2 separate regions of the Homo sapiens genome follow, and region 2 is linked to region 1. A link means that fine-mapping ties the variant in region 1 to the expression of a gene that starts in the linked region. Tissue or cell type: liver. Region 1 holds a variant in brackets; the other region holds the start of a gene. All regions are shown on one strand. Distances are from middle to middle.

The links. PIP is the estimated chance that this variant, and not a neighbour inherited with it, causes the effect. A credible set is the group of variants that fine-mapping cannot tell apart.
Region 2: it holds the start of DYDC2, and the variant in region 1 is the best candidate, but not a certain one, in a credible set for the expression of DYDC2 in liver (GTEx, PIP 0.58).

The regions. Positions count from the first base shown.
Region 1 is chr10:80,392,157-80,396,396 of GRCh38, reverse strand. No RefSeq gene overlaps it. Among named protein-coding and RNA genes, the nearest start is that of PRXL2A, 14 kb to the left of the region's middle. The variant A/G (reference allele first, on the strand shown) is at 2,436.
Region 2 is chr10:80,354,838-80,359,077 of GRCh38, reverse strand. DYDC2 (DPY30 domain containing 2) reads right to left here and starts at 2,297. Exons shown (of 5, transcript NM_032372.6): 1 at 2,253-2,297; 2 at 1,033-1,185. DYDC1 (DPY30 domain containing 1) reads left to right here and starts at 2,323. Exons shown (of 7, transcript NM_001269053.2): 1 at 2,323-2,366.

The DNA.
Region 1 (4,240 bases):
GGTGAGACAGGCTGCTCCATTCACTAGAGGGTCTCCCAAGAGACTCTCAGTTTTCGTCTAAAAGTATTTAGAGGAAAACAGCATTGTAGAGAGAGTCTAGGTTTGTCTAACACACTTCAAATTTTTGTCTCTTTTCCTGGTGTCTCATTCAGGATAGCATGTGTCCCAGATAGAAGAGTTGGTTGGGACAATAAAAAGCATTGTTTCCCAAACCATCAATAACTTGTTTTGGATAACACCCTGCTGCCACCAGCCAGTTCTTCTGAGAGAAGACAAAAGGCTCTGACCTGCCTCCAGGCACCTTACCTGCTGTTCTCTTGCTGATGTCATAAATGATCAACAGCATCCCCTCATAGCCACATTGTCAGGACACCTAGAGAGCTGTGTGGAGCCAGAAGATACTGTTTCTGCATCCCAGGCATGTTGGTGAGCCTCAGGTGGCTGGAGTGGCCAGGGCTTCTGCAGGAAGGACCTGAGAAGTGGACATTCTCCACACTCACCTCAGCCTCAGCAGAGGGGACATCAGCTCCAAGCTTTTGCCTGGCAGGGTCTCCTGTCTTGTGATTTAGAGTTCCTGTCCCCCTGATAGTTGCCATGAAAGTGGCCCTCGTGTAGCCTGCAAAGTGACGCCTATTCTCCACCCTTGGACCTGTGGCTTCTCTTTGATTAGACACTGTGCATACTCAGGGTGGCTGGCAATGGGGATGGATCCACCCAGGGCTCCTAGTGGGGATTCTTAGGGGATACTGTGGCCCTTTTCTAGAGCACTCACATTTCATTAAGAGGCCTTCACAGGTCTCAATCTCACATACCCTCTGCTATTCAGCCACATTGCCCTTCTTACATGTTTCCAAACACCTGGATGCCTTTGCACACATGCTGTTCCTCCAGCCTAGACTGCCCTTGCTTGTGCTTTTGCGCGGTGGCTCATGCCTGTAATCCCTGCACTTTGGGAGGCTGAGGCCGGCAGATTGCCTGAGGTCAGGAGATCAAGACAAGCCTGACCAACATGGTGAAACTCTGTCTCTACTAAAAATACAAAAATTAGGCGGGCATGGTGGCAGGCGCCTGTAGTCCCAGCTACTCGGGAGGCTGAGGCAGGAGAATCACTTGAACCCTGGAGGTGGAGGTTGCAGTGAGCCAAGATGGCGCCACTGCACTCCAGCCTGGGGAACGGAGCGAGACTCGTCTCAAAAACAAAACAAAACAAACAAAACAAAACAAAAAAACTCCTCCTCATCCATCAGTGCCATGTCAAATATTATCTTTGTAAAGCCTTTCTTCACTTTCTGCCTGAGTTAGTTCACTTCTGGGCTCCCATAGTTTGGTCCTATGTCTATTAGCACACTCCCTACCTCTCTCTGCCTCCTCCCTGCACAAGGATCTCAAGGGTAGAGGCTGTGCCCTTCATATCCACACTCTCAGGCAAAGGTTTGGTGATTGGTATTGAGAAGAATGGTTTGGCTGTCCTGCCAAACCATGTCCCATGTCCTGCTCTGGGATGGACATTCAGATTGTGGAAATGAACCCAGAGAGGAAAGTTTTGATGAATCAGCCCAAGTTTTCACTACATTTTTCTTTAAAAAGGATTCTGTGATTAACTGCACCCCAATTAGCAGGCACACCTAAAATATTAATCATTTAACTATCACCCACGGCCCACTGAGTCACTGTGCTGGGAGGGGCAGGAGGCAATGATTCCAAACATGTCTGCAAGTCTGATTCTCAGCCAGACCTTTCAACCATGCTACTCAGGAGAGAAAACCAAACTTTTCTTTCAAGGGAGAATGTATGGATTTCCCCCAGGGGGACAGCACGCAGGACTGAGTTTGAAGGATGTTTTCTGCACACCTAGCATGTAATCTCTGATATTTTCCAACAAGTCAATGCATGGCTTATCCAGCAAATTACTTACATTAATAGACACCCATTATCTCTACTGAAAAGATTTCCTAGATAATGCTGTGACTGAAGTTTATAATTATACTGCAGAATGCCAGACCTCTCTGCAGGGCCCAAGTTTAGCACTGTTCTAGCTCCTTCTGGTGGTACAGCTTTAGGACTTTATTGAATGCCAAAAATCTTAGCTTTGAGTGTCTACACTTCCTAAAATGAATGCCTCCTTGCAGCATCTGAAGTGTTAATTTTAATTTGTTCATTCTTCAAGAAGATTGGTGATGTTGTTGTTTTCATTTTTTTTTTTTTTTTTTTGAGACGGAGTCTCGTTCTGTCCCAGGCTGGAGTGCAATGGCATGATCTCAACTCACTGCAACCTCTGCCTCCTGGGTTCAAGCTATTCTCCTGCCTCAGCTTCCCGAGTAGCTGGGATTTCAGGCGCCCACCACCACGCCAGCTAATTTTTGTATTTTTAGTAGAGATGAGGTTTCACCATGTTGGCCAGGCTGATCTCGAACTCCTGACCTCGTGATCCACCC[A/G]CCTCGGCCTCCCAAAGTGCTAAGATTACAGGCATGAGCCACTGTGCCCGGCCATTGTTTTTATTTTTTAGTTTAATTTTTACAATTTTTATCATTATTATTTTTTTGAGACAAAATCTCACTCTGTCACCCAGGCTGGGGTTCAGTGGTGCCATCTCAGCTCACTGCAACCTCCACCTCCCAGGTTCAAGTGACTCTCCTGGCTCAGCCTCTCCAGTAGCTGGGACTAGAGACACTTGCTACCACAGCCAGCTAGTTTTTGTATTTTTAGTAGAGACGGGGTTTTGCCATCTTGGCCAGGCTGATCTCGAATTCCTGACCTCAGGTGATCCACCTGCCTCGGCCTCCGAAAATGCTGGGATTACAGACGTGAGCCACCGTGCCCGGCCCTGTTGTTTGTAATAAGTAGTAATAAAAAGCCGGGCGAGGTGGCTCACGCCTGTAATCCCAGCACTGTGGGAGGCTGAGGCGGGCGGATCACGAGGTCAGGAGATTGAGACCATCCTGGCTAACACAGTGAAACCCCGTCTCTAGTAAAAATACGAAAAAAGAAAAAATTAGCCGGGCGTGGTGGCGGGCGCCTGTAGTCCCAGCTACTAGGGAGGCTGTAGGGCAGGAGAATGGCGTGAACCTGGGAGGAGGAGCTTGCAGTGAGCTGAGATCAGGCCACTGCACTCCAGCCTGGGCAACAGAGCGAGACTCCGTCTCAAAAAAATAATAATAATAATAAAAATAAAAATAAGTAGTACTAAAATATGCAAACAAATTCATTACATTTTAAACCTGAAAGGCCAAGTCAGATCTCGAAGAGATATTTGCATACCCATGTTCATAGCAGCATTATTCACAGTAGCCAAGAGGTGGAAGCAACTCAAGTATCTATCAACAGATGAATGGATAAACAAAATGTTACACACACACACACACACACACACACACACACACACACAAAATGGAATATTATTCAGCCTTAAAAAGGAAGGAAATTTTGACACACACTACAACATAGATGAATCATAAGAACATTATGCTAAATGAAATAAGCTCATCACAGAAAGGCAAATACTGTATGAGTCCACCTAGAGTGGAATCTTATGAGGCACCTAGAGTAGTCAAAATCAGGCCAGGTATTGGTGGCTCACACTTGTAATCCCAGTCCTTTGGGAGGCCAAGGCAGGAGAATTTCTAGAGGCCAGGAAGTTGAGACCAGCCTGGGCAATATAGTGAGACCCCATCTCTACAGATTTTTTTTTTTAAATTAGCTGGGTGTTGTGGTGCATGCCTGTAGTCCTAACTACTCAGAAGGCTGAGGTGGGAGGATAGCTTGAGCCCAGGAGTTTGAGGCTGCAGTGAACCATGATTGCGCCACTGCACTCCAGCCTGAGCAACACGGTGAGACCCTGTCTCAAAAAAAGAAAACAATCACAGAGACAGAAAATAGACAGTAGTTGCCGGGGCTGGGAGGAGGGGATAAATGGGGAATTGTTGTTTAATGAGTACAGAGTTTCGGTTTTGCAACACGAAAAACTTGGAGATGTGTTGCACAACAATGAGAACATATCTAACATTACTGAACTGTAACCATTTAAATATGATTAGGAACAATTTTATGTGTTTTTGTTTGTTTTTTTGAGACAGGGTCTCACTCTGTTGCCCAGGCTGGATGAAGGGCAGTGACATGATCATAGCTCACTGCCACCTCGACCTCCCAGGCTCAAGCTATCCTCTCACCTCTGCCTCTCTGAGTAGCTGGGACTTCAGGCATGTGCCACCACGCCCGGCTACTTTTTAAACTTTTTGCAGAG
Region 2 (4,240 bases), 37 kb after region 1:
CCTGAGCCAGCAGCTGCAACCTGCTCTGGGTTCCCTTCCACACTGGAAGCTTTGTTCTTTTGCTCTTTGTAGTAAATCTTGCTGCTGCTCATTGTTTGGGTCTGCACTGCCTTTATGAGCTGTAACACTCACTGCAAAGGTCTGCAGCTTCACTTCTGAAGGGAGACCAGCAACCCACCAGAAGGAAGAAACTCTGAACACATCCGAACATCAAAAGGAACGAACTCTGGACACGCCGCCTTTAAGAACTGTAATACTCACTGTGAGGGTCCACGGCTTCATTCTAGAACTCAGTGAGACCAAGAACCCACCAATTCTGGACACATTGGGACTTGTTGAGATGCAGAATCTCAGGTCCCACCACAGATTCAGAACCTGCATGTTAATAAAATCTCCAAGCGACCTGTAGTTACCAATCTACTTTGCCTGGATCACTGTAGAACTGTCCTTCCCCGAAGGCAGAATCACCAACTCTGCATTCTCTAGTCAGGGGGTGGCTGCCACACTGGTTACATGTGGCAAGCCGTATTGGCATACCTCCCCCTACTCTAAATTGCCCATTTTCAACAATGATCTGAAGGAAATGTGTTTGCCCAACAGTCGCTAAAATATGGTACAAAGACAGTAGAGCCAGCATAGAGCCATAATCTGAGGGCTGGAGGGGAAGGAGTCAAGGGGATGCCTTTTATTTTTTATTTTTAAGAGAGAGCCTTGGTCTGTCGCCCAGGCTGGAGTGCAGTGGCACAATCTCGTCTTACTGCAATCTCTGCCTCCTTGGTTCAAGCAATTCCGCTGTCTCAGCCTCCTGAGGAGCTGGGATTACAGGTGTGCGCCACCACACCTGGCTAATTTTTGTATTTTTAGTAGAGATGGGGTTTCTCCATGTTGGCCAGGCTGGTTTTGAATTCCTCACCTCAGGTGATCCGCCCACCTCCGCCTCCCAAAGTGCTAGGATTACAGGCGGTGAGCCACCGCGCCTGGCCAAGGGGATGCCTTTTAAAGCCCACTCAGACCAACTTAGGGTACACTCACCAATGGGGGGAGAGGCTATTTTTCAGTGTTTCCCAGAGCTCCTCTGAGGGTCTGCTTACACAGTTCCTGGACTTGCACTCAGTAGGCAAGGTGATAAGAATAGGGGTTGTCTTTGTTTACTGTATACCGCCCACGCTTGGCACACTGGGAGCTCTGTAAATATTTCTTGACTTATTCATTGAGAGAGTTCTGCCACCTGCCCTCATGCTTCCCTTTGATTTTTCCACGCCCAATCTGGCATTTACTAGCTCAACTAACATCTATTAAGGCCTCTCTTGCCTGGCACTGCCCCGCCCATAAGCTGAAAGAGAGCACAGGAAAGGCTAGCACATGCACAGACGACTAGGCCAGGGAAGACTGCAAGGGTTTGGGCCTGGTGGAGACTGGACGGCTTCCCGGTGGTGGGGCACCCGAATTGGTTCTGAAAGGAACCAAGCAGAGGTCACCAGCAAGAGCAAAGGTGCAGAGTTGTGAAACTGCCAAGCTATTAGCAGCTTGCAGTGACGGTCTTCCAGGGACTCTGGAAGGTCTTCCACCCTTTTCCGATTGGCTGCCCTTCCTGGTTCCTCCTCAAAGCCCGCCACCTCTTTGTCTCTCCCAGAGCATGCCGGGCTGCCAGTCAGGGTCCCTTGCTCTTTTGTGTGCCCCTACTCCTCCAGGTTTCTGTGTAGCAAGTCTCCTCGGCTCACCCACCCCGCGCGCCTCCACATACGCCTTTCCTCGACCCCTCACGAGCACACGCCCGTCCCGCGTGCCCGCTCCTCTCTGCCTCCCGCCCCGATCCTACGCTCCCCCTCCTCCCTGGACCCCGCCCCCTGGAGCGCGCCCGCTTCTCTCTGCCACGCTCCCCTTCTTTCATTCCCTCTCCTCTCTGCCCGTTGCCCCCTCGTGCGCGCTCTCCCTCCTGCACACCGCCTCATCTCTGCCGCAGGCCCGACTCCTGAACGCCCCCTCCTCTCTGGCCCCCTCCCCTGGCGCGCGCCCCCTTCCGCACGACCCCTTCTCTCTGCCGGGCGCCCCGCGCCTGCACGCCCCCTCCTCTCTGCCGCGCCCCCTCTACTCTGCGGCGGGCTCCTACTCCTGCACGCCCCCTCCACTCTGCCGCGCCCCCTCTACTCTGCCGCGCCCCCTCTACTCTGCCGCCTGCTCCTACTCCTGCACGCCCTCTCCTCTCTGCTGCGCGTTCCCCCTTCGCTGCCCACCGCGTGCCCTCTGCTCACCTATCCGCGCGCCCCTTCCGCTTTGCGGCGCCTACACTGGCTCCTGAGGCGCGAGCTCTCGTTGCCTGGCAACGGGACGCCGCTCCTGGGTGGCGAGCAGGCGCGTGTGTAGGGGTGAGCGCACCGGAAAGGCCCGAACTGTTTTTGGGATTTGTTCCCCTAGCTTCGCTGGGTCCGGCGGGCAGAGGCGGTTCTGACCGTTGGGCCTTGGGCGTCGAGCAGGACTCACCTGAGGCGGAGAGAGGCCGCTTCGCGCCTGGGGCTCCCGAAAGCGGCCAGCTGTCCTCCTGCTCCCCCTGAGCGGGGAGCGCTGCGTCTCCTGCGGGCTGCGGGAGACCCTTCCAGACTCCCGGGTGGGAAAACCACACTGAGCGCCCCGGGAGGTTGCCAGATACAATACTGTATCTGGCACCCCTGCCCGGGTGCCCCCGCCCAGTTGGCTGGCTGGCTGGCTAGCTGTCTCCCAGGTGTGGGTAAGGAATCTCCTTCCATCTCTGTGGCACCTTCTTCACGCTGGAGGCAGCTGTTTCTGTGGGAAAGGGCTTTCTTATGTTGAGCCAAGATGCCTATTGGTGTATGTGAAAAATAACATTGCTTACCACAGGAGAGATGGGTATTATCCTCGTTTCACAGACAGGAACATGCTAAGGGAGTTGGCAGGCCTTGCCTGGGTCCCACTGATATGCCCAGAAATCCGAGACAGAGCCTCCCCTGACCTGGCCCCGCTGGTAGGCCAGAAGTTTTCTCTTTAGGGATAATGGTCCCCTTCCTCCCTTCCCACATTTTATCCTTCTGGAGCAGCAACAGGAGTCTGTGCACCTTTTTTTTTTTTTTTTTTTAACTTCACTTCAAATGACTTTGAGATGTCTGTGTAGCGTTTTGGTCTTTCAGGTATATCCTACTGAAGAAATACAGTGAAGATACTGTGTTCCAAAGTCAGTTGTAATAATTCTTTTCTCTGTATGGTTGAGACACCAATATCAACCTCATTTGGAATTAGGTTCATTTGTGCCAGTTTGTTTTCCGTTTTTAGAGTTTTTATGACTATGTTTACATATACACACATACACATTCCTTTCCCCACTGCTGTTGCTAATACAAAAGATGACAGACCATATACAATTTCAGCACCTCGTTTTCTTTATTCTGTGTCTTAGAGATCACTCTCTAGTTTCTTCATTCTCTTGTACATCTGCATAATAATCCATTGTGTTGCTCTTATTAATCCCCAATTTGATGAACATTTAGATGGTGCTTCAGTGTGACTATTGTAAATAATGCTGCAAATAACTGTGTGCATATGCCATTTCATATTTTTGCAACTATATCTTTGAGATAGGATCCAAGAAGCAAGATTGATGAGTCAAAGGGTGAATGCATATGTGATTTTCTAGATGTTGTCAAATTCTCCTCCATAGGAGTTATACCATTTTGCCCTCCCACCACTGTCATATGGCATATGCACATAGTTATGGCATAAAATTTCAGAGACACTGACATCCTGGGGTTCATCCATAGAATAAAAATTGGGGGTTATGGACGGACCCCAGGATGTCACTGTCTCTGAAATTTTATGCAAAATGCTAGATGCATTTGTCCAGGGACAAGTTTAGACACAGTGGCATTCTATCCCCTGTAATTGCCATGCTCATTCCTATATCAGGGCCTTTCCTCATACCTAGAAGACTCTTCTCTTCTTTGTCGTGTTAATTTTACTGTTTTTTTTTTTCAGTAAATGTAAGCTTAGCTCAAATGTCACCCCCAAAGAAGCTTTTTTTTTACTTTCCTGACTTGATCAGCTACTCCTCTTGTCTGGTCTCATAGTACTTATTTTAACTGCAATTTCATATTTATTGATTTAAATATTTATCTTCCTTTCTCATCTATAAGCTCCATGAAGGCAGAGACTGTTTTTGTTTTAGTTTGCGCTGCTGTAGCAAATTACCAACACTGGGTGGCTTAAAAACAATACACATTTATTTCTCACC